Linked DNA regions of Homo sapiens. The protein of the gene in region 2 purifies or fractionates together with the protein of the main gene of each other region. This does not show direct contact. Each region holds a gene or a part of one and is shown on either strand. Other genes may lie near its edges.

The links.
Region 1: the proteins of USP48 (region 2) and UBA6 fractionate together in Homo sapiens (co-fractionation; 3 studies listed by BioGRID, with this or other methods). This does not show direct contact.
Region 3: the proteins of USP48 (region 2) and RNF123 purify together in Homo sapiens (affinity purification with mass spectrometry; 3 studies listed by BioGRID and IntAct, with this or other methods). This does not show direct contact.
Region 4: the proteins of USP48 (region 2) and NDUFAF7 purify together in Homo sapiens (affinity purification with mass spectrometry; 3 studies listed by BioGRID and IntAct, with this or other methods). This does not show direct contact.

What each region holds. Positions count from the first base shown.
Region 1 is NC_000004.12:67,691,138-67,698,181, forward strand, and holds part of UBA6 (ubiquitin-like modifier-activating enzyme 6), read right to left. Parts: intron 5,571-7,044; coding exon 5,508-5,570; intron 1-5,507. UniProt on the Homo sapiens protein: Activates ubiquitin by first adenylating its C-terminal glycine residue with ATP, and thereafter linking this residue to the side chain of a cysteine residue in E1, yielding a ubiquitin-E1 thioester and free AMP.
Region 2 is NC_000001.11:21,677,757-21,682,152, forward strand, and holds the end of USP48 (ubiquitin carboxyl-terminal hydrolase 48), read right to left. Parts: intron 3,079-4,396; coding exon 3,052-3,078; intron 1,684-3,051; coding exon 1,661-1,683; 3' UTR 542-1,660; downstream 1-541.
Region 3 is NC_000003.12:49,713,538-49,720,581, reverse strand, and holds part of RNF123 (E3 ubiquitin-protein ligase RNF123), read right to left. Parts: coding exon 6,995-7,044; intron 6,845-6,994; coding exon 6,757-6,844; intron 6,673-6,756; coding exon 6,585-6,672; intron 6,493-6,584; coding exon 6,408-6,492; intron 5,008-6,407; coding exon 4,868-5,007; intron 4,761-4,867; coding exon 4,572-4,760; intron 4,481-4,571; coding exon 4,405-4,480; intron 4,190-4,404; coding exon 4,105-4,189; intron 3,754-4,104; exon of another isoform or gene 2,632-3,753; coding exon of another isoform or gene 1,117-2,631; exon of another isoform or gene 898-1,116; intron 667-897; exon of another isoform or gene 72-666; coding exon 1-71. Other genes in the region: AMIGO3 (amphoterin-induced protein 3 precursor), read left to right, coding at 1,117-2,631. UniProt on the Homo sapiens protein: Catalytic subunit of the KPC complex that acts as E3 ubiquitin-protein ligase. Promotes the ubiquitination and proteasome-mediated degradation of CDKN1B which is the cyclin-dependent kinase inhibitor at the G0-G1 transition of the cell cycle.
Region 4 is NC_000002.12:37,241,658-37,248,657, reverse strand, and holds part of NDUFAF7 (protein arginine methyltransferase NDUFAF7, mitochondrial), read right to left. Parts: coding exon 6,867-7,000; exon of another isoform or gene 6,234-6,866; intron 6,024-6,233; coding exon 5,965-6,023; intron 4,796-5,964; coding exon 4,685-4,795; intron 2,607-4,684; coding exon 2,463-2,606; intron 1,203-2,462; coding exon 1,029-1,202; intron 524-1,028; coding exon 308-523; 3' UTR 1-307. UniProt on the Homo sapiens protein: Arginine methyltransferase involved in the assembly or stability of mitochondrial NADH:ubiquinone oxidoreductase complex (complex I).

The DNA.
Region 1 (7,044 bases), on a different chromosome or scaffold from region 2:
CTTGAAAAAAACTCACGGATGAACTTTGTAGCCTAGAAATACCCAAAAATTAAGAAAATGTCATGAATGCATGAAATCTATGTACATATTAGTCTATTTTATCATTTACTACCATAAAATATACACAAATTATAAAAAGTTAAAATTTATCAAAACTATGCGTACACTTACAGACCATAGATGTCGCCATTTGCAGTTAAGAGGAATGTAAACAGATGTAAAGATGCAGTATTCAGTCATAAGTGCATAAAAGTCACTGTAGTACATACTGCACTACTGTAATAATTTTGTAGCTACTTCCAGTTGCTATTGTGGTGAGCTTAAGTGATGTATCTGGTTAAAGCACATGTGACTCTATTCATCTTTGCCTGAGCAGTTCCTCTCTCCAGTAAATTGAATATTGCAGGAAAAAGTGATGTCTTGAGATTCTTGCATATTTTTTCATCATGTTTAATGTGCAATACTGTAAACCTTGAATGACATCATGGGACCCATACAAAGTGCCACCAGTAATGTTGCAAGTGCTCCCAAGAAGCTGAGAAAAGTCATGACATTACAATAAAAAGTTGAATTGCTTGATTATGTACTGTAGACTGAGGTCTGCAGCTATGGTTGCCTGACATTTCAAGATAAAATGAATCCAGTGGAAGGACCATTGTAAAAAAAAAAAAGAAAAGCCATCATTGTAACTACACCAGCAAGTATGAAAACCTTACACTTTTTGTGAAAGATTTTTTTATCTTATATTGAAAATGCAGCACTGATATGGGTGCAGGATTGCTGAAAGAAAGTCATAGACTCTAACATGATTTGAGAAAAAGCGAAGTCATTATAAGACCACTTAAAGCAAAAAGAAGGTAAAGGATATAAAGCTGTAGAATTCTTTTTTTTCCATAGGTTACTGGGGTACACAGGTGGTGTTTGGTTACTTAAGTTCTTTAGTGGTGATTTGTGCGATTTTGGTGCACCCATCACCCAAGCAGTAAAGCTGTAGAATTTAATGCCAGCAAAGGATAGTTTGATAACTTTAGAAAGAGGTTTGTCTTAAAAAAAAGTCAGACACAACATGAGAAGCAGCTTCTGCCGATCAAGAGGCAGCAATGAGTTTCTAGACGCCATAAGGAAAATCACTGAAGAGAAAGGATATCTACCTGAATAGGTTTTTAATGTAGAAGAAAGTGCTCTATTTTGAAAAAAATTGCCACAAAGGACATTTATTAGTAAGGAAGAGAAGCAAGCACCAGGATTTAAGGCAGAAATGGATAGTTAACTCTACTGTTTTCTGCAAATGCTTTCAGGTTTATGATCAGGACTGCCCTTACATATAAAGCTGCTAACCCCTGAGCATTGGAGGGAAAAGATAAACACCAGCGGCCAGTCCTCCGGCTACATAACAAGCAGGCCTGGACAAGAACCCTTTTTCTGGATTGGTTCCATTGATGCTTTGATTCTGAGGTCAGGAAGTACCTTGCCAGCAAGAACTTTTAAAGTTCTTTTGCTATTGGACAATACACCTGGCCACCCAGAACCCCAAAGTTCAACAATGAAGGTGCTGAAGTGGTTTACTTGCTTCAAAACACAACATCTCAAATTCAGCTTCTAGATCAGGGCATCATAAAGGACCTTTAAGGCTCATTACACAAGGTACTCTATAGAAAGGATTGTCAATGCTATGGAAGAGAACCCCAAGAAAGAGAACATCATTAAAGTCTGGAAGATTATACCATTGAAGATGCTATCGTTGTTACTGACATCAGACAATCTGGCAGAAGGGTTCCGACGATTCAAGATTGCATTGATTTCTTTAATGACATGGACCCTTCTACAACAGGGGCACCAAAAAGAAACTAAAGAAAATGACAGGAGGATCAGTATTGTATAGAAACATTTTTCCAGAAATGAGAAAGCAAAAAAAGTCACATAGTAGTTACATATTTCCATAGTTACACTGTGTGTGCCTGCCTCTCTTTCCCTACCCTTCTGCCTCCACCTCTTTTGATTCTGCCACCCCTAAGACAACAAAACCAACTCCTCCCCTTCCTCCTCCTCAGCCTACTCAACATGAAGACAACAAAGATGAAGACCTTTATGATAATCCAGTTCCATCTAATGAACAATAAATATATTTTCTCTTTCTTACATGATTTTCTTAACATTTTATTTTCTCTAGCTTACTTTATTCTAAGAATACTGTGTATATATATATATACAGTATATAATACATATAATATTAAAAATGTGTGTTAATTGATTATTTACATTATCAGTAAAATTTCCAGTCAATAGTAAGGCTATTAGCATTTAAGCTTTGGGAGAGTCAAAAGTCATATGTGGATTTTCGACTGCACAAGAGGTAGGGTGGTAGGGGAGTTGGCACTCCTAACTCCTTCATTGTTCAAGTGTCAACTATACTATACTACACACTTAAAAACTTGTTAGTAGGGTAGAGTTCATGTTATGTGTTTTTACTACAATAATAACTTTTTAGAAGGTAAGTTGGAGTTATGTTCAAAATAACTCGGTAAGCTATAGTATTTGGACTTGTACTATGAGACAAAATGGTCGGAACTGTGGCTGTGTGAAAGAGAACGGAGAGAAAAGAGAACTTCTGGAATTTATCTTTATCTTACCCTACCTTCATCAAGCTTACTGATGAAATCTATCTCCCTGAGATATTAAGAGGCTAAGGATCCTCATTTCATGCCTTGTCCCTAAAATAAATCATTGTCCAAAGTCCTAGGTCTTATACTAGTCCCCATAAGCAACAGATACAGATTTTTAAAAAGAGAAAATACAGCTGGGCACGGTGGCTCGCGCCTGTAATCCCAGCACTTTGGGAAGCCAAGGTGGGCAGATCATGAGGTCAAGAGACTGAGATCATCCTGGCCAACATGGTGAAACCCCGCCTCTACTAAAAAAAATACAAAAATTAGCTGGGTGTGGTGGTGCATGCCTGTAGTCCCAGCTACTCAGGAGGCTGAGGCAGGAGAATTGCTTGAACCCAAGAGGCGGAGGTTGCCATGAGCCGAGATCGCGCCACTGCACTCCAGCCTGGATGACAGAGCAAGACTCCATCTCAAAAAAAAAAAAAAAAAAAAAAAAAAAAAGAAAAAATACAAAACTACCAAATCTTCAGATTCAGTCACTATAAAAAAAAAAACCCTCAAACATTTAAGTTAATTTTTAAAATCTAAGAAAATAAGAGCTGGTTATTGTGTGAAAATCTCACATTTTGGCATTTTGGTCTTTGTATTTCTTTTTTTTTTTTTCTTGACATGGAGTTTTGCTCTGTAGCCCAGGCTGGAACACAGTGGTGCCATCTCAGCTCACTGCAAGCTCTGCCTCCCCGGTTCATGCCATTCTCCTGCCTCAGCCTCCCGACTAGCTGGGATTACAGGCGCCCGCCACCGCCACCACACCCGGCTAATTTTTTGTATTTTTAGTAGAGACGGGGTTTCACTGTGTTAGCCAGGATGGTCTCGATCTCCTGACCTCGTGATCCACCCGCCTCGGCCTCCCAAAGTGCTGGGATTACAGGCATGAGCCACTGTGCCTGGCCACATCTTTGTATTTCTACTAAGAAAACCTATATGTAGTCAGTAACTCTTTTAGTATTCCCTAATAATTCACTCTTTTAGTACCCACATAAATTTCTGGCTTCCTGCCCTCACTATGACAAATTCTTAAGGAAGATATTAAAACTCAAATATGCACATTGGTAAACAACTAGATGTTTGCAATAAGACACGCATACCAAGTGCTAACAGCTACACCAAAAGATACTCTCCGTCAAACAAAAGAAAATGGCTTACCTCTAATAATAACAGCTAAACTGCTATATTCTATAACTCTCAGTAAAGCAAACTGCAGCCTACTTACGTAGCATTGTAAATGGAAAGTTTAGTCACTGGCCTACTGAAAATTATGTTTATCAGCATTATAGGGTTGGAGGGACATTAAAAAAGTTTCACAAGGATTAAACTAAAAAATGAATAAAATTAGTCAATACTATCTCAAAGAGGTGCCATTTGTTAAACCAAGAAAAACATGACCAAAAGGACATTAAGAATATAATTATAGATTAAGAATCCCAACGTAAGAGTCCCACTCTCCCTTTTTGCTTATTATCTTCAAGCCACACTGACCTGCTTGCTGTTTTGCAAGAAGGCAAGCTTGCTCTCATTTCAGAGATTTTACACTATTTCTTCTGCTTAGAATGTTCTTTCTTAAAAATCTTGAAATAGTTGACTTCTTATCACTTAAGCCTCTATTAAAATATTGTATTACAAATATCACACACATCATTTCTGATCACCCTATCAATAAAATGGCTACTCTTATCCTTAGGTCACTGCCTAACTCATTAACCTGTCATAGTTTCTTCAAATCACTTACCATTAACTGTTTGTCTGCCACTCCTATCAAAAAAATGTATGGTCTTAAAAACTCACTACTGTAATCCAAATACCTAAAACAGTACCAGGCATTTAATAATAATAGATAACCCTGTGCTACACACTGTTTTAAGTGCTTTAAATGTACTAATTCAGTTAACCCTTATACAACAACTTAAGGTGACTTCTAAACCATATTTTATAATCAAGAAATCATCTTTAAAATAATTTTCACATGAGCAAGATTGTTAGTCTTCTATCTCTTTTCCCAAGCATAGAGTACAAAACAGGATTTGGACTCAACATGCCAGATGGTATGTATTAGCTCCTAATAAAGTGCCCATTATTGACTCTGCATCTTTTTCTTTACTTTAAAAAGTATTCAAATTTCATGAAAAAGTATAGTTTAAAAAGTCTCATCAAATTTCATTCAAATCACAACTATTCAATCATACAATACTTTAATTACTAAAAAAGTATTCCAATTTCCTGAAAAAGCATAGTTTTAAAAGTCCCATCAAATTCCATTCAAATTACAACTCTTCAATCACACAGTATTTCTCCACTGTCTATAAATTACAGAACAGGAAATATTTTAATGAGATTACAATGAAGTAATATTCTCTAGATGTTATTGTATGACTAAAGTGAAATATTATTCTTCATCAACTCCTGCACTATCAAGAACTTAAATACGTATTATTGTCCAAAAATGAAAGGGTTATTTTGCAAGGGCAGCAAAATCCTTCTTAGTCCTATCACCTAAACCTAAAACAACTGAGATTTAAATATTATCCGAATGTAGATAAAAAAAATCACAGAAACCCTAATTTTAACTTGAGAGGAACTCTTTATATATATGTGTGTATATATACACACACATATACATATATACACACATATATATACACATATACACATATATATACATATACATATATACACATATATACACACACATATATATACACACATACATATATACATACACACACACACACACACACACACATATAATTCTGCATAGGCTGAATGGTATCTTCAAAGAGACTACTTGATTATTTGAGAACAATTAATGGGGAAAATAAGTTTCAGTTTCTATGAGATTCTTACCTATACAATGCATCATCGATTTCCACAGATGCTGTTGACATAATGGGCAAATTTTTATTTGTGCTGGAAAAAAAAACATGGTTATTAAATATTCACATTTTATAATGTAATATTTGATTACTTGTGTGATCAGATTCACCAGTTACTAAAGGTTTTCACAAACCAAACATATATTTTATTAACAACCACTTTACTTATATTTTTTAAATGGCCTGAAATTAAATTATCGGATTGCTTGTTCTATCCTGTGTAAATTTTAAGATTACAGAGCTCATCATCTTTTATTCTCAGATCTCAGGTGTTGTTTTATCACTGGTACATAAATACATATATATATATTTTGTTGTTGTTGTTGTTTGTTTGTTTGTTTTCTTTTTTGAGATGGGAGTCTCACTCTGTTACCGAGACTGGAGTGCAGAGGCACGATCTTGGCTTACTGCAACGTCCACCTCCTGGTTTCAGACGATTTTCATGCCTCAGCCTCCCAAGTGGCTGGGACTACAAGTGCACACCACCACATCCAATTAATTTTGTAATTTTAGTAGAGATGGGGTTTTACCATGTTGGCCAGGCTGGTCTTGAACTACTGACCTCAAGAGATCCACCCGCCTCAGCGTCCCAAAGTGCTAGGATTACAGGCGTGGGCCACTGTGCCCGCCTGTTTGGTACATATATTCTAATGGATCTGTATTTCAGCAATTCTGTACCATGAACTTTCTCTATATATACAGTCTTCCCAGATAAACTCATTCAATCCTATTGATGAATATATATTGATTATATTGAAACTTATTTCTCCACGTGTGATCTTTCCTCTGACCTCCAGATTGTATACAACTGCCAAAACAATAACTATTCTGATGTCTTAACTGGTATCACAAACATAACAAACTCCAAAGAGAATTCAATTACCCCTGCTTAATCTATTCTTCCTGTCTTTCCTAACTCATTTTCCGCTACCATCATTTACTGGGTTGGGCCTGAAATCTAGGGATCTTCTTGCTTAAATCATTCCCCAGTTTTCTCCATCTGAGACCTGTTAGCTCTACCTTCATAAGATATCTCAAACCTGATCATTTCTTACTATTTCAATCAGTACAATCTCAAGCCAAACCATCATCACATTTCACCTGGGCTATTTCAAAGACCTAGCTAGTCTCCTTATTTCCAGTATTGCCCTTCCCCTTTATTCTCCATAAAACAGTCTAAATATCTTAAAATGCAGTCAGAAATTATTCCCTGAATTTGGACTACCCTTCAGTGGATTTCCTTTACTCTTAAAACAAAATTCAAACACCTCACTATGCTTGAGAGGGCCAATGTGTCCTGTCTCCCAATTATCTCTCCAATTTCAACTCCCACCAGTCTCCGTTTTCGCTTACTATCTTCAAGCCACACTGACTTGTTTGCTGTTTCGCAAGAAGGCAAGCTTGCTCTCATTTCAGAGTTTTTACCTATTTCTTCTGCTTAGAATGTTCTTTCTTAAAATCTCGGAATAGCTGACTTCTTGTCACTTAAGCCTCTATTAAAATATTGT
Region 2 (4,396 bases):
AAGAAGTTTGTGTTATTAGTTTTAGGCTCCTGCATTCATTTCTTTGGAGCTAATAAAACAATGAGATCTAAAAATCAGGATCCATCAGCTCAACTTCAAGTCCTTCCCCTGTGCCAACCTCAAGGCCAGAACAGTTGGTCCCTTGGTTCCACTCCTAGGATGGTTTCTCAGGGGGCTGTGTGCAGCTCTCACCTTCCCCCATAGATAGGCTCATTAGAGACCCCCTGCCTCCTCAGGGGACACAGACTGAAGACATTAGAAACACAGAGGGGAAACACAAACACGAAGTTAGAATTTTACCAAATGGCCGTAATTACTCTGACAAAAGGAGCTATTCAAAAGGGATGCTGCCAAGGTTATCGGGTCTCAAATCAAAATCTGCCTTCCCCATCCATGATCTGAGTTCACATTTTCATGAAAGGGGGAAAAAGCCTTGCACAAACCCAAGGCCAAGAAAAGTGTTAACAAGAGAGATGCCTAAGCTAGCATCTCAGCCACAAACTTACACAGACGGACTCAACAGAGAAAACTTTTTTTTTTTTTTCAAAGGAAAAACTCCAGTCTTAAGTTCAATTAAAAAAACCCCTTCAATATTCTTAAGAATATTGCTTCGGTTACGTGTTGCTAAGAATGATAATCCTGAGTTGGATGGACAGCACATCCATATACTTTTTTCCTTTTTTAAACAATGATCTAAGAGACCCTCTCAGGGCATTTTGGAATAATGCTTTCAAAAAGAGAACTGAGGTCCAAGAAACAGTGACATGGAGGACAGGAAGAACAAATTTTATAGAAACCTTGTGTTATCCAAATGTACTTCAGTCTGATTTACTCTTCTGATAGGTAGTCAGATTTTTTATTTTCAAACGTGCCAGGTACATTTCCCACTTTTGAATAACAGCAAAACCGGAAGAGGATGCTTTCACACATAATAAATGTTCTCCATCCTTTCTGAAATGCACCAAAGCAAAAAGCCTCTGAAGTCAAAACATGAGACATAATTCCTTGCTCATTGCAGGAGACATGCAGGTGCCCCCTCCTTTACCCAATACCAAGAGACAGACGGCCGGGCAGGTGTAAGGCGGGTGGCGCTGCAGCTGACATGGAGAAGAGTCTAAATCTGAAGACACTTTTCCACACTTAGGACAAGTTCTTCACTTTCATGCTTTATTGAAAGTAGAATATGAATCAAAGACAGGCATTGGTAAGCAGGTTATGTCTCTAAAATTACTTTTCGTTCAGAGCAGAATGTTGTCCCATCTACTTGATACAATCCTTTATGGACCAACGCATCTGGTATGAAACTCGAGCAAGGAAATATAACAGAACTTTATTCCCCTCCCACGACTATAAATCTCATATGTAAACATGATTTACTATTACTGCTACTAAACTTGTTCCGTCTTTACTTGCCCCCTCCCACCCACCACCCCCCTTAAATATAAAATTGGAAACATTTCCTTCAAGTCTGATGTCCATCAGTGCAATCTGCTTTATTTGACATAAGGCATTTGGGACAGTCACGTTTGAATGGATTTCTGCCTTTTGGAAGGGGCATGTAATGGTTTAATTCTTAAATCCACCTTTGCTTTAATGCCCTAACATGTCAAACTCCTCTTCCCCTCTGGTCATTTCTTAGCAGTCAGCAAGTATTCAAAGATTAATGTCCAAGAAGACCAGTACCTGGGAAAAGAAACACACGTGGAGGGATAGTTGTGAACTACAGATTAAAAGTTCATGGATTCCATTTACCAAGAACACATCATCAACAGGGAGCATCAAATTTAATAAATGAACACAGTCGCACCTTGGTGTGGGAGGATAAGACAAAATACCAGCAGACTCCAGGCTCTCCGCTAAATCACATTTTTGTTGAAAGCCATGTGCTTCCTAAGTGTATCTTCACACAAACTAACCAGATTTTATTGATTCTTTCATTTAATGACCATTCTTCTTTTCTGAGAGTTTCACTCTTGTCGCCCAGGCTGGAGTGCAGTGGTGCAATCCTGGCTCACTGCAACCTTATCTCCCAGGTTCAAGCATTCTCCTGCCTCAGCCTCCCAAGTAGCTGAGATTACAGGCGCACGCCACCATGCCCGGCTAATTTTTGTATTTTTAGTAGAGATGGGGTTTCACCATGTTGGCCAGACTGGTCTCGAACTCCTGACCTCAAGTGACCCACCCGTCTCAACCTCCAAAAGTGCTGGGATTACAGGCGTGAGCCACCATGCCCGGCCAATGACCATTTTTCATAAAGACGTTTTTTGCTTTGTTTTGACCCCATCAGGAGTCCCTTTGTAATGGTAGCATGCAGACAACACAGCTGCAGCAAGAGGAAGACTTTATTTTGGCCAGTAGATTTGTCTCTCATTTGCTTTAGCAAGGAATAGCTGGTATGTGATTCAAAGTCATTCCTTAGAAAATCACAACCTGCCAGGGGCTTCTGGAGTGGCCAGCAAAGAATCAAGACAGCAACAGGAAAATCCGAAAACGTCAGAGGTCTGTATTTGATGACTTCTTGAATATTATCGGTGTGCACAACTACATGGCCCAGATGTAGTACGAGCACCACCGTGTCTCCTCTTGAAGTAATAATCCAACAAATGCCTTAATGCTAAGTGATTAATTAAATCTTTTCACTGGACTTGATAAAACCTGACAAATTCTTGTGCCACTAATTCTTAATAGTTACACACTGTTTTGCTCTAGGAGGGGACTTGATAGGAAGAACTGGGAAAAGGTTAAAAATAAATCTTGAAATGCCACTAGCTAATTTCCCAACCTCCCATAAAATGAGAAAGGGAAGGCCAAATGGACATCTGGCAAGAAACAGTTCTAACACAAAAGCCCCAGCTGAGGCCCCATTTGAGGCCTGAGTGTTGAAAAAGATAATGAAGAAGCTTGAGTAAGAAATGCATTTAACTAAAATTAATTTCAGTCATGAGACTCAGATTGGATTAAAATTTAAAATCAAATTATAGCCTTCGCTTTAACAGAAAATTACAGGATGACTCTGACATTCATGAACAAAACATGACAAATGTAACTTACCTTTAAACCCTTCTTCTGGCATACAAACTGAAAAAAAGAAAAAAAGAAGAATTCCAAATTGAAAAGATTGTCGTGACAGACAGTAATATCATTTCAATGCTTAAAGACAAAAGTTTAAAATAACTTTTGATTACCTTTGTCACCTGTAATAATCATCTTTGAAGTTACGGATGTTACTAATTTCAGAACAATCTTTGTTTCTGTTTTTATCAAAGCAATACGTATGCATCATTTAAAAAGTCAAATACTGACAGGACAAGGTTTGTAACTAGGGCACACCTAGTGCACGACTCTAGGAGTGGCCTGGGAGGAAGCCATGTAACTGACTCCTCTGGAGCTGTCTCTCTCCCCTTCCTCCTCCCATTCCCAAGTTCTGGAAGGAGTCACTTTTGACTCACACAGCAGCTTCTTCTGGTATTTAGCCTATTTCTAAATAACATGCTTTTCATAATTTTATTTACTTTTTTTTTTTGAGAGGGTGTCCAGCTCTGTCACCCAGAATGGAGTGCAGTGGCATGATCTCGGCTCACTGCAACCTCTGCTTCCTGGGTTCAAGCAATTCTCCTGCCTCAGCTTCCCAAGTAGCTGGGATTACAGGCACCCACCACCACACTTGGCTAATTTTTGTATTTGTAGTAGAGACAGGGTTTCACCACGTTGGCCAGGCTCGTCTCGAACTCTTGACCTCAAGTGATCCGCCCGCCACAGCCTCCCAAAGTGATGGGATTACAGGAGTGGGCCATCGTGCCTGGCCTACTTCATAATTTTAGATAAAAATCTAATAAATTCTTCAGTGAAGGATACAAACAGCTGTTTTACCACTTACATAGCACCTGCCCCGACCCATCCTCCTGATGAAGTGGTGTTTGTTGTTGTTAAGCCAGTCTCCAGCGCTGGCATTACTTTTTACGCCATTAATACTAGTCACAGTTGAATGCCTTGGTGCACCTTGGTTATATTTACTACATGGTATGACTTGGTCTTTCTGGGCTTGGTAACTACTGAATTACTGATGTGTTTCATTTTCTCTGTATTTATCTCCAATTCACGTGTAAATTCTTAAAGACCTGTAACCTCTTGAAGACAGTCATCATCCCTTCCACTTTTCCTTGTGGCATCCCTTCCTGAAGCTCGCATCCCACCACTCCAATATGGATCAGGTGTCTTCGCTGCCTGCTGAAGAACAGTAGTTCTGAGACTTCCCTTCACCATCTTCTAGGGCATCTTATCCTAGGCTGATCTGCTATTTACTGGGTCCACTGTTGATTCTTTCTTGATTTAATGTTTAAGAAGAAGAACACATCCTCACACAGTATCATGGCAGACGGTGCATGACAGATCAATC
Region 3 (7,044 bases), on a different chromosome or scaffold from region 2:
CCAGGAGATAGCATATTGAGCGTAGCTGGAAGCAGGGATCTGCCAGGAGCACTGATGTGGCTTGCTCTCTCCTAGGTAGGGGAGGGTGCAAGGGCAGTCAGAAGGCTTGGGGCCTGGCTAAAAGTCTCTCTTGGGATTGCCAATGAGGAGTGCCATGGCTCGTACATGATCACCCCCCCTGCATCCTTTCCGTCTCCCTGCTTCCCAAACCCCAAGTCCTGTATTCTAGTAAGGTGCCACACAGCCTGTTTTTTTTTTTTTTTTCTTGAGACGAGTCTCGCTCTGTTGCCCAGGCTGGAGTGCGATGGCACGATCTCGGCTCACTGCAACCTCCACCTCCCGGGTTCAAGTGATTCTCCTGCTTTAGCCTCCCGAGTAGCTGGAATTGCAGACGCCCACCACCACGCCCGGCTAATTGTTGTATTTTTAGTAGAGACAGGGTTTCACCAGGTTGGCCAGGCTGGTCTCGAATTCCTGACCTCAGGTGATCCACCTGCCTTGGCTTCCCAAAGTGCTGGGATTACAGGCGTGAGCCACCGCGCCCGGCCTGGGGTACCACTTTAAGAAGGCTCAGGCGAACCACCTTAAGATAGTGAGAGTCTGCCTGCCCCATAATATTATCAGTCCTTCAAAGTCACTTCAAATAAACACTAACAGCAGCTTGGAGACATTCTTCCAGACTCCCCCTTTTACTCCCCGAGGAAAAACGAGCGGCGGAGAGCTGCCAGCCAAAGGCTGACGGGGACTTTGGGGTTGGCCTTGCTCCCCATCTGGCGGTCATGCGGGGCCATTGGGCACAAAGGGATGTAGCCGCCCCGCCTCCTCAAACGGGAACCAATAGGAGCCCGGGCCCCGCCCCTGGGGGGAGTATTTAGGAGCCGATCAGGAACTCGCTTGGAGAGGGCTAGCGAAGCCGAAGGGAGCGCGGCTAAGAGTGCCGCACCGCCTCACAACCTGGGAACCGGAGAGTAGGGGCCGTCGGCTGGCAAGAACCCGCCGTGCCTCCTCGGCAAGGGCCATCCGGTGCCACCCATGTCGCACTAGAGCAGAAGAGGGTGAGTCCTGGAACTGCAACCTGCACAGAGCTGCTCTGTACTGTCCCTGGTGGTCGCCGCCATGACCTGGTTGGTGCTGCTGGGGACACTGCTCTGCATGCTGCGCGTTGGGTTAGGCACCCCGGACTCCGAGGGTTTCCCGCCCCGTGCGCTCCACAACTGCCCCTACAAATGTATCTGCGCTGCCGACCTGCTAAGCTGCACTGGCCTAGGGCTGCAGGACGTGCCAGCCGAGTTACCTGCCGCTACTGCGGACCTCGACCTGAGCCACAACGCGCTCCAGCGCCTGCGCCCCGGCTGGTTGGCGCCCCTCTTCCAGCTGCGCGCCCTGCACCTAGACCACAACGAACTAGATGCGCTGGGTCGCGGCGTCTTCGTCAACGCCAGCGGCCTGAGGCTGCTCGATCTATCATCTAACACGTTGCGGGCGCTTGGCCGCCACGACCTCGACGGGCTGGGGGCGCTGGAGAAGCTGCTTCTGTTCAATAACCGCTTGGTGCACTTGGACGAGCATGCCTTCCACGGCCTGCGCGCGCTCAGCCATCTCTACCTGGGCTGCAACGAACTCGCCTCGTTCTCCTTCGACCACCTGCACGGTCTGAGCGCCACCCACCTGCTTACTCTGGACCTCTCCTCCAACCGGCTGGGACACATCTCCGTACCTGAGCTGGCCGCGCTGCCGGCCTTCCTCAAGAACGGCCTCTACTTGCACAACAACCCTTTGCCTTGCGACTGCCGCCTCTACCACCTGCTACAGCGCTGGCACCAGCGGGGCCTGAGCGCCGTGCGCGACTTTGCGCGCGAGTACGTATGCTTGGCCTTCAAGGTACCCGCGTCCCGCGTGCGCTTCTTCCAGCACAGCCGCGTCTTTGAGAACTGCTCGTCGGCCCCAGCTCTTGGCCTAGAGCGGCCGGAAGAGCACCTGTACGCGCTGGTGGGTCGGTCCCTGAGGCTTTACTGCAACACCAGCGTCCCGGCCATGCGCATTGCCTGGGTTTCGCCGCAGCAGGAGCTTCTCAGGGCGCCAGGATCCCGCGATGGCAGCATCGCGGTGCTGGCCGACGGCAGCTTGGCCATAGGCAACGTACAGGAGCAGCATGCGGGACTCTTCGTGTGCCTGGCCACTGGGCCCCGCCTGCACCACAACCAGACGCACGAGTACAACGTGAGCGTGCACTTTCCGCGCCCAGAGCCCGAGGCTTTCAACACAGGCTTCACCACACTGCTGGGCTGTGCCGTGGGCCTTGTGCTCGTGCTGCTCTACCTGTTCGCCCCACCCTGCCGCTGCTGCCGCCGTGCCTGCCGCTGCCGCCGCTGGCCCCAAACACCCAGCCCGCTCCAAGAGCTGAGCGCACAGTCCTCAGTACTCAGCACCACACCGCCAGACGCACCCAGCCGCAAGGCCAGCGTCCACAAGCACGTAGTCTTTCTGGAGCCAGGCCGGAGGGGCCTCAATGGCCGCGTGCAGCTGGCAGTAGCTGAGGAATTCGATCTCTACAACCCTGGAGGCCTGCAGCTGAAGGCTGGCTCTGAGTCCGCCAGCTCCATAGGCTCCGAGGGTCCCATGACAACCTAGACTGCCCAGGGCTCCCCCACCCAGGCCCCCACCCTCTTGCTGCTCGCCCTGCTCCCTGCTTCGGTCCAGAGAACTGGCAGATACTGGTGGGAAGCACTGTGCCTGGCCCCCCAGCTTCCTGTATGGGCCTCGAAACACAATGGGCCTTCTCGCTCACTGGTAGAGACAGGGGTTGTGGTCCCCAACCTGCCTTCTGCTCTGCCCCTGCACAGGACCCAAAGGCCCCAGGCCCTGCAAGGTGTGCTAGTTCCTGCTTTCCCGCGGACTTCCTAGTGCCCAAATGCCCTGTGAGGCTGAGAGACCCAGGCCCCTGTGGCTTTCAACACAGCACAGCTGTGGAAGTGGCTGTGTTCTTCTACAGCCTGTGGAAGAACCCCTGTAGCAGAGCCTCCCGTCCACCCTCAGGGGCTGAGACAGCTCTCGAGGAGTGGTGCTCAAGAGCTGACGCAGGGCCACCTCCCCTTCCCAAGGGGGTGGGAGGGAGTGGGCCCACAGGGAAAAGAAGGCGGCTCTGAAGGAAGATCTCGCCCACACCCCAGGACAGAAAGAGGAAACAAGCCCGCCCTCTGGTGAAATGGGACTCCCTCCATCCACCAACACCCAACCTCCTGAAAGCTTCACAACTTCACGCAGAGTCCGGTGGGCAGGCACCAGGCAGGAAAGGCTCCTCAAGAGGTTCCTGGTGGTCTGGCCTAAGCCCCAGCCAGAGGCCCTGCTCTCTCTGGCCTGGGGCATCCACCCGTTGTTCTGAAGGCAGAGCCCATTCTGTGGGCTCACAAGACACAGTGAAGGGGATCATGGCCTGCACCCCTGCTTTTCAGCAGTAAAAAGCCCGAAAAGCCTGGCGAGCATGGCCGAGCTGGGAGGGCCGAGCCGGAACTCCACGTCCCTCGAGAGCAGGAGCCTCTTAAGGGCTGGCACTGGTCTCAGCCTAATGGCTGAGGCGGTACCCTGGCTTCATATGCATCTCACTGCTCCCACTGCAGGGGGGCAGGGAAGGGGGGTCTGGGAGCCCTTCATGTGTGGGGGCCGAGCTGGGGGCCCCCATGGCCATCCTGGACCTCGCTGCTCCAGAGTTTAATAAAGGTAGCACATGCTTATTGCTAGAGCCTTTGCAGACAATGGCGGTCCTCCGTGTGTTCAGCTCTCCTGGCGGCCTGGCCCTGTCCACCACAGGACGGCACACCCTCCGGAGTCCTGCCTCCCATGCCTGGCCTGAGGCATGGCCACAAGCCAGTGGCTCTGTGGGCCAGGGCCACCTGTCCTGCTGGGGTCCCAGATTCTCCTACTTAGAGCAGCTCCGTCTGCCCCCTATTTAGGCCGTTCACACCTCACCACCTTCCCTCTGCCTCAAAACCTGATGCTGAGGTCCATTTTCCAGATGAGGAAACTGAAGTACCAGGAGGCCCTGTCCAGCCCCTCCTCACCAGACACACCCAACTCCCACAGGGGCCCACGGTCCCCAACACTCACTCTGAGGCTGGGCCACGCACCAGGAGCTGCACCAGGATGCCCGTCACTGCCACCAGAATGGGATAGTGGTCCACGCTCTCTAGGCCTGAGGGGAAGGGGAGGAAAGAGATGAGCCACCCACATGCTCCTGCTTCAAGGGCTCCAGGCCTGCCCACTGCCCTCTCTACAGAAGGGTGAGCCGAGACTGCAGAGCACCAAGTCTGGCTGTCCGGGGGCAGAATGTGGAATCAGGCCTCACTGTTCCTAGCAGAGGAACCGAGGCCTGTAGTGTGTTGGGGTGCAGGGCATCTAGGTCCTCACCAGGCAGCCGTAGGGTGACCACACGATCAAACAGGTTCCTCTCAGCTGTCACCCGGTTCAGCACCTGGTTTAGCAGCTGTGAGGGGAGCAGGAGTCCATTGGTGGATGGGGAGCGTCATCAATGGGGCATCCCCAGGGTCCCACCCTTGTTGCCCAGATGGCCACACCTGTGCAAGACGCCGCAGCAGCATCTCAGAGGTAGGCCGGGTCCAGTCAAGGAATATCTCAGGCACCAGTGTGATAGTCATCTCCAAGACACGCAGCAGGCTGACCGAGAGGTCAAAGCAGGTGGCACATACCTTGAGCTGCCGGCTGTCCACAAAGTTCCGCTCCAGGCGCTCAGCAGCCTGCTGGATCTGAGCCACCAACACGTGGGCATGCAGTGGTCAGCACCTGGCTCTAGCCCAGGACCAGGCCTCATCCCTTGCACCACCCTAACCCACGAGGCCCCACCACAGCCCACCTCTTGGATCATGCCAATGAATTCAGAGAAGGCCCAGTTGAGCTGATTGAGGACGCTGTTGAGGAAGCTGGGTGCCACATCAGGACCCTGCTGTAGGAGGTCCGCCATGTGCTGCTGCAGCAGGGTGGAAGGGCAGGGCTCTGCAGGGGGACAGGAGGCGGCATCATCAGGGACTCCACTGCAGTGGCCTCTGCCTGTTTGCCTCTGTCCTCGCCCATTGAGGCTTTGGTATAAGGACAGAAAGATGGCTCCCTAGGAATGCTCAGGTCATGAAAGCAGGGGACAGAGGACAGCTGCCTTGGAGTTAGTTGGGACAGAATCTGTCCCCTCCTTCTACTAGGCAAGCCCCAGGCTGCAGCTGTGTCCAGCCCTGACACCACACCATCCACTCCAGGTCCAGAGCAGCCACACAGCCACAGCCTGACCCTCAGCAAGTTCTGGGTCGCACACCCTTCAGATAGGGTCAGACCTAAACAGGGCGGCTTAGATGCTTCCCCACCGGCACCAAGGCCAGCTCCTCCAAGAGCCTACTCTAAGCCCTGCTGCAAACCTGCTGTCCTCTACTGTCCTCTGCTGCCCTTGGCCTGGCCTTGGCATATGGCCGAGGTGGTGGGCACCAAGTCTGGGCTGGCAGGCAGCAGTAACCGGAGCCCTCAGCTGCAACGGGCCTGGCGCACCTCCCCACCAGCTTGATACAAATCAATAGTTCCCGCAGCAGCAGGACAGGCCTGGCCCCACTGCCGCTCTCCACTTGCAGCTCAGTTCCGCCCTGGACGCAGGACCACGGCAATTGGCAAGGACTTGCTGTGTGACTTAGCAGAAGACACTCAGCCTCTCTGGGGACACCCTTTGGACCAAAACACTGCCCACAAGGGCAGAAACAGACTACATGAGCCAAGAAGAGCCACCATGAAGGGTGAGGACAGTGTGTGGCACACCTGGCACTCTGCAAGGGCCAGGCCTAGGGGAAAGTCCTTGCTGGACCCTGGAGAGAGGGCACAGCCTCTGCTCCCAACTAAATGTCCCTTCCTCCAGGAACTCTCGTGAATACCCTCTGGGGACCTGGCCAACCTCCAATCTGTGCTCCCAGTGGACTCAGGTGTCCAAGGCCTAAGCCAAGGCCAGGGTCTGCCACCAGCAGATAGCAAAAAAGAAGCAGAAGGACATGGTGCTGGGACAAGGCTGGAGGTCAGGGAGCTAGCTTAAAGGGCAAGGGACAGAGTATTCAGTCTGCATGAGCTGTAGCAGGCCAGGAACATGGTGCCGCCTCTCACCATGACCCACATAGAGCATCCAGGCCCAAAGGGCACATGTAGGTAAGACTGTGGGCAAGGCTGGGGAGGGGGAGTCCCATCCCGAGTATCCTTGGGCTGGAAGGAAGCAGGGAAAGTGGAAACCCCAGGGGACACGTAGGGAGTCTGGGACCCAATGGGGGAACCAGAGAGGGGCTGGAAGAAGTGGAGAGTCTGAAAGAACCCATGGGTAGGAGGTAAGCGCCCCCGCCTGCCTTGCCCAGGACTCGCCCAACCCAGATACTCACTCTGGAGGCTGGGCAAATTGGCGTCCTCAAGTTTGGTTTTCAGCAGATGTGGCAGCCGTGTATAGCGGTACCCGAAGCCACAGCCCTGTGGAGGTGGGGGTCAGTGCCCAGGTCAATGGGACAGCGCACCCTCTCCCTCCAGCCAGCCTCAGCCACTTCCCCTCGAGTCAGGCTTACCCTCCAGAGCCGCACCAGGATCCAGTTGGTCTGGGCCCAGGGCCGCTGCTCATAGGGCGCCAGGAGGTTCCTCACCATGGCGATACGCCTGTGAGGGCAAGGAGGGGAGAGACGGGGTGAGGCTGGGCATGGTGCTTGTGGCCAGGGTGTGTGCCCCCCAGGCCCCACTCACTGCTCCTCGGGGATTCGCTCCACAGCCCGCAGGGAGTGTGGGTAGCACACGTAGCTGGCCAGGGCCTGCATCAGTGAGTCTCGGATGTCTGCGGGGACACACCGTGCCTCAGCAGGGGCTTGGCATGAGCCCTGGACCCATACTTCATGCCCACCTGGCCACATTTTTCATAGAAGAAAGCCGACCAGAGGTGCCATCCCATCCCCCTCCCCCTGTACCCTCTGTAGGGGCCCCTCACCAGTGCCCACAATGCGTGCGTCGGCAAAGTGTTTGGCGAGAATGGCAGCC
Region 4 (7,000 bases), on a different chromosome or scaffold from region 2:
CAGGCATGAGCCACCACGCCCAGCCGCATGTTTACTTTTTAAAATAAAATAGAAATATGGCAACTAGCTTTGTAAGTTAAAGGAAACTCAGTTTCACAATAACTTATTAGCTTGAGCACACATTTGCACCAAAGCCAGTCACAACCCTAAAAGTTCTATAATGTTGGTTGTATTATATACAACATGGACTGTTCTTGCTGTGAAAAGATAAAATACTTTGACTTTTGTTACCTGCAGTATATGAAATGTGTTTCCTTTATTTTGATTTCTTGGGCCGACTGAAGGGTAAAATGTCCAAGCTGAAATATCACTGCCAAGCAAGTTCACTAAACCCAGCTACAACGGATGCAAAGGGTTTTGACTGACGTGCATTCCTCTGATATCTTCCACCTTGAAGTCTCTGATGAGGTAGCAAGGCAAAAAAGTTAAATCTCTCTCCCATCTTCTTTGGATTCATTAACATATCATATCCTTGAAGTAACTGCTGCCTCACTGATGGCTCATTTGATTTATCTAAAAGAACCTGAAAAGAAAAAAATTCTTAGCAAAAATAACCAGAAGACAGGATTCCTAGTTACATGCAGCAATACTAATGACTCTCAAATATTCCAATAAAACAGCACTCAAAATGTGACTTCTGATTACCTGCCTGAGAATCATAGAGTACTTATTAAAAATGTAGATTGGTGTGAAACAAACCTAAGGATTTGCATTTTTAACAAATATCCTCAGGGGGTTTGATCTACAGTAAGGTTTAGGTGTTCTCAGAAGAACAGTTAGAAAATTCATACCCATAAACGCAGTTTTCTTAACAAACAAAAACACTATTTGGAAGTCTTAATGCTACCTCCCATGGAGATGCATAAAACTTACCAGACTAGTTACTAAATCCTATACTACCTGAAAAGACTGGAATACCAAGGATTGGCTAACTACAAGAGCATTAAGGCCAGGTGAACATACTATTTAAAGTAATTTTTGAAATACTATGAAAGTACTTAATAACAGTGAAATAAAATAAACCTTACCTTCAGCCGGACATCAATACCCATATTTTTTAAAAATGTGTGTTGTTTTATTGGGCCCAGAGAGGCTACTTTTCCCTGTGCCATTCTTCGCAAATAACTGAAGTCCACATCAGCTGTTAGATCTGCTGTTCCTGGGGCAATTAAGACATCATGAAGCTTGTGGTCGCAAAACCCCTTGAACATAAAGAAATCAGATTTTTGCCCTTTTATGGTTATTAAGATTAAAGAAATGCTATCATATTAAAGTTATTTAATATTTACATTAATGCTTGAGGTGACGGAATAGAGCTCTCATTAATTCTCTAGGCAGGGAACACCTAGGCAGTGTTTTACAAAGTATATGCATCAACCATGCATCAGAATCACCTGAGATACACTACAAACTACTACACAGCCATAAAAAAAAATGAAATCACGTCCTTTTCAGCAACGTAGACATAGCTGGAGGCCATTATCCTAAGTGAATTAATGCAGGGACAAAACCAAATACCACATGTACATCTCACTTAGAGCTAAACACTGGGTACACGTGAACATACTTATGGGAACAAACACTGGTGACTACTAGAGGGGAGACAGGAGGAGGGGAACAAGGGCTGAAAATCTATCTACTGAGTACTATGCTTGCCACCTGGGTGACAGGCTCACTCGTACCCCAAACCTCAGAGTCAATGCAATATACCCATGTAACAAATAACAAACCTGCCTCATGTACCCCCTAAATCTAAAATAAAAGTTGAAATTACTTAAAAAAAAATCACCTGAGAATATATTACTGACCCTAACCAGACCTGGTCAGTCAGAATCCTGGAGGTAAGGCTAGAGAATGAGTATTTTCAACAAACTATCCAGGTTATTTTTAGATAAAGTTAGAAATTAAGAACCACAGACCTAGAAAATGACTAAGAGCATTTAGTTAAATGTTTTTCAATTAAAGTATATTGAATAGAATTGATTATATTCAAAGATCATTAAGAAAGGATGTTTAGGAACAGTGTAAAAGAATACATCTGGAAAGGGAAAAAATGTTGAAAATATGATAGAAAAAGCTAGAATGATTACAGTAGGTAGTTTAAATCTGTAAAGAAGTACCAAAATTTTTCTTGAATGAAGGGGGTTACAGATAGGTTTAAGAATGTGAAGAAAATCTTTCCATTTGTATTATTCAGCTGCTTATCTGGATTTATATAAACATAGGTTCTACAACTAAGGAAGAATGTACACAATTCAGATCCTGTTAAAGGAGGGCTGGACAGTAGACTCAGTGTTAGCAGTAAGAACTAGGGTTAAGGGGAATTACAATAACATGAATTAATGTTAACTATAAAATAATGTAATACAACAATACCAGGCACTGTAGAAATCAAAGCTCTTCAATGGGCTTCAGATCTAACACTGAAATTCTGATAAATCATGTTACTGAATTATACATACTCTGAAGGTATCTGTCTTTGTTCCATCATGACCATAATCAGCAACCAGTGCAGCACCTCCAGTTAATGCAATGCGTTGAGAAAGTTCCTCGATGATAACACCAGCATCAGGACACACTTCAACATGATCCCTTGTTTCGTCATGCTAGTAAAGGGATCATTGCAAGAGTCAAAATGCATCATTCAAAAGAATGACTTCCTTACGGTTTTTCAGGTTTTTCCTCAATGAGCATTTCTTAGTTTTAATAAAAATAAATTCTTAATATGAGTATGTTCTCTACACTCAACTTTTCACCTGACTCCCTTTTTATTATACAAAACTCCTTAGTTCTTTGATGCTATCCCACTTGATATACAAAGACATTTTAATCTCTTTTATAAAAAGGCAAATGCCCTCCCAATCCCCCCAGATGGCCTAGAGCATTATCATTTAATGTAAAATTACTTTTGTATCACAAATCATATAAACACATTCCTCTAGGTTGAAAGCATGGGAAAGGGATTTTTTTTGTCTGCCTAGAACAGTGCCAGGCACATAACAGTCAATGAAAATATTGTGCTGAAAGAACAAATGGTATAAATCCAATAACACGAAGCAGACCCTATTAGACAATTATATTATCATGCCCTCTGTTGTGCCAGAAAGTATCCCAATGATATGCCCTACATCAAGAAACGCTGGCTTATAAACTAGTGCCAATGTATTGAAACCGTTATTACCCCAAGATGTCCACTTAACTAAGGGGCCACAATAAGTGTGTACTAGCTTAAAAAGCAAAATCACACTAAGTATTAACACTTGTCAACCTGACTAGTATATATGAAATTTCACTACTTCCTGATCTGATTGAAAATGTGGTATTTCTTTCCCTTCATTATGAAAACATACATTAACTTGTACTCCTTCCTAACACCTTATTATAGAAATGCAGTAATGACCTGCCCTGATGTCTGCCTATGGTAACAGGCATAGAGTCAGATGAAGTTAAATCTCAGCTCTTCCTATGCTTACTGGTAGACAAGTTACTTAAACTTTCTGAGTTGTTTTCTTCCTTATAGATATTGTAGGTTTATTGTGAGGATTAAATATAACTAACCATTTAGCTAATAGTGCAATCAAATTACTGTGGCTTAACTATAAAAACCATGAAGTCAGCCTCATCAGGCATCAGTGGACACGCTGATCATGCTGACATTCTATCTTAGGCTACTCTTCAAGATGACATGTATTACCACGCATCTCATTCAAGTGAAAGAGAATATTCGCTCCCTCCCTTCCTAAGTGAATACTAATTAGGTCAAGAACTAAATGAACTCCCAGGGCCAGGAGGTTAGTTCTTGGTAGTTCTATGAATATGTCATTCAGGTAAACTTAGATTGCTATACTATGAAAAAACAGGTGTTCATAAGTGTTCAGTCTGACATTTAAATTTATACTTAACAAAACTTAATTCATACATTTAAGTTTAAAAGCTCTTGTGCTTTTAAAACTGATAATTTCTAAGTAAGAAGTTCTCAGTTAAGGTCCAGAAAGTAAAAATCATCTTCTGAGCTGGAAAAAAAGGATTAAAAAAAAAGAGGCAGTCTGAAGCCTGGACGTTCCTGAGAAGTACAGGGATTTTTTTGTACCTTTAAACAAGCCACAATAGACAGGCTCTTGCAATGATTCCTTGAGATCAACAGAAAGCAGTAGTAATTCTACCATTCTGGCCGAATCAAACTGAGATCTGTGTGGAAGCATGGGATAAAAGCCATGCTGTAGCCCAAAGAAGGATAATAATAGAACCTACCTAATATAGTTGCTTTGAGAATTAAATGAGAAAACAGAGTAACACAAAGTACTCAACAAACGTTAGCTGTTATTGTTAATTTACTATAGTCTGTACTACATTGCTTTCACAGATGTAAACTCTTCCTGTGGACAATACCATTACCATTTGACATGAAACTGAGATAAGCAGTGAAAGTAAGAGACTTGGCTGAGTAAGCGGTTACTTACTTTCTCTTACTACATGACGTTAAGGTCACACACTTAAGAAATGATTTTAACCCATGCTCCTGCCTCTAGCTCCTCTGCACTTTCACTGTCAATAAAAAGCACCTCGTATGCTACTAGCAACTCTTCCTGTAAAGGAACTCTAAAACTCTAAAGTAGTAACTCAGAAAATAAGACTTTGAAGATTCTGTGAGCAATAAAAGAAACTTAAAAAAGCATATTCTTACTTGTATGAAGGCTTCTGCTGGGGTGGCAGAAGGTGCCAAAACAAACCTCAGTTTATCAGAAACCTGTGGATCAATGTCAACAAATACTTCTCGCCATCCCTGTGGTGTTTTCTAAACACAAAATAACACATAAAAACAAATTTTTGCAAGTTTGTTCTCTACATTGCTTCTACCAAAAATAGCTTTTTCTCCTCTTACCATAAGTAACTAACATTTACAGAGAACTTACTATTTAAAATTACTTAAATTCATTACTTCATTGCCTTTGAACAATGAGTAGACCAATCGATGCAAAAGAAACAATAACAGAGATGACGCTGTGGAAGATAAAATCAGCAGCATGGAAAGTACCCCAAAAACGGAAATAGACTCAGGAAGAACAGCCAGAAGCTTTACTAACAAATTACTACAGGATCATGAGAGCTGCTCTTCTCCTCACAAATTACCAGTACATATACATTATCACCAAATCTTAAATCTCCTCACAGAAAGAATGAAGAAAAGTTTTATTATTTTTTTTTTGAGACAAGCTCTCGCTTTGTTGCCCAGGCTGGAGTGCAGTGGTGCAATCTCAGCTCACTGCAACCTCTGCCTCCTGGGTTCAAGTGATTCTCATGCCTCAGCCTCCCTAGTAGCTGGGAAGTACAGGCACGTGCCACCAAGCCCAGATAATTTTTCTATTTTTAGTAGACACAGGGTTTTGTCATGTTGGCCAGGCTGGTCTTGAACTCCTGACCTCAAGTGATTCACCCACCTCGCCCTCCCAAAGTGCTGAGATTACAGGTGTAAGCCACCATGCCTGGCCCAAAAAAGTTTAATCTATAATTTTTTAAAATGTGCTAAGGTTGGCTGGGTGCAGTGGCGCACACCTGTAGTCCCAGCTCCTTGGGATGCTGAGGCAGGATGAACACTTGAGCCCTGGAGTTCAAGACCAGCCTGGGCAACATAGCAATACCCTATCTCTTAAAAAAGAAAATTTTTTTTTTGCTTAAGTAAATCCTTCATTGCACCACAGCCAGTTACCATCTTACCATTTTTCATTCCCTTACTTCTTCAAATCAGAAGAATTAAGAATTCTTAATAATTATCCCAGGAGAACTAACAATTCTCATTAATATTTCATTTTTTGCTTTTGAATTATTTGTGTACCAAAATTCCAAATAATAGTTAAAAATAACCTCAACAAGTAAAATTTGTATACTGAATAAATACCATAAACATTGGCAACACAATGCCTTTTGTATTCAATTATAGACATGACTTTTTTCCCCCCTCAATACCTGAAATTTATGCACAGGAAGAACATCAAAAAATTCATGTGCAAGATAAAAGCTGTACCCTATTTAAAAAGAGGAAAACAATTAATGTTTCCACATTTCACAGGAATTAATTCTTTTGAATATTAACTGTAAAAAAAATGCCTACTTCCTCCATAATCATCACTACCACAGAATTATCTACCTCTTCATGGAAAACTTACACTGCAGAACATAGAACAATTATTACTATTCTTATTTTACACATAAATGGGGTCAGAAAATGGAAATACCTGAAATAGCAGTTAAAGCTTTTATTCATCACAAGGCTTGAAAGAAATTAGAAGTCAGAGTTGTTAGCTGGAAGGGAATTTGATTTCATAAAATCGGGCTTCTCAGCCTGAGAAGGCTGAGGCAGGAATGGCTTGAGATCCCTTACCCAAGATCGTACCCCCACTTTGGCTTTGAGTCAAGACTCAAACTAGTCAATACTAGTCAGTATTCCTGACTAGTACAGGGATTTTCCCCCACACCTTGCTTGTCTTTAGGCAAGTAAGGATTTTTTAAAAGACTCTATAACTGAACTAAACCCACCTACTAACACTGCTTCCATCAGCCCCAGCTGCCTTGGGCTGCTCCGTCATCGGTACAACCCTAGCTATAGGGAAATACTCAAAAGTACAAAGGAGATTTACATTTTGTTTGGGATTTTACAAAGCTTCATGAAATAAACTACTACTTAATGTCAGGCAACTTTATTTTCTATTAAGATGCTCTTTTCTAGAAAAAAGTAGGCTACTCTCTATGGATAAGGGACTTGGCAGCAGTAACTCAATCTATTATATTGCTGTAAAAAGTTACAGTCCCATCAATACTGTGAGGGTTGTGATCAAAATTCTTTCATTAATCCACATAAAGGTAATTACCTTTTGGAACATCGTGCAGATCTCGGTACCAGGAAATTGGAATCCCAGACTTAGTGACACCTTTCATATACACTGGGGATCCAGCATTTCGCTCTAACGGGACCTTCTCTTTAGTCAGTGTCAATGCTTGAATC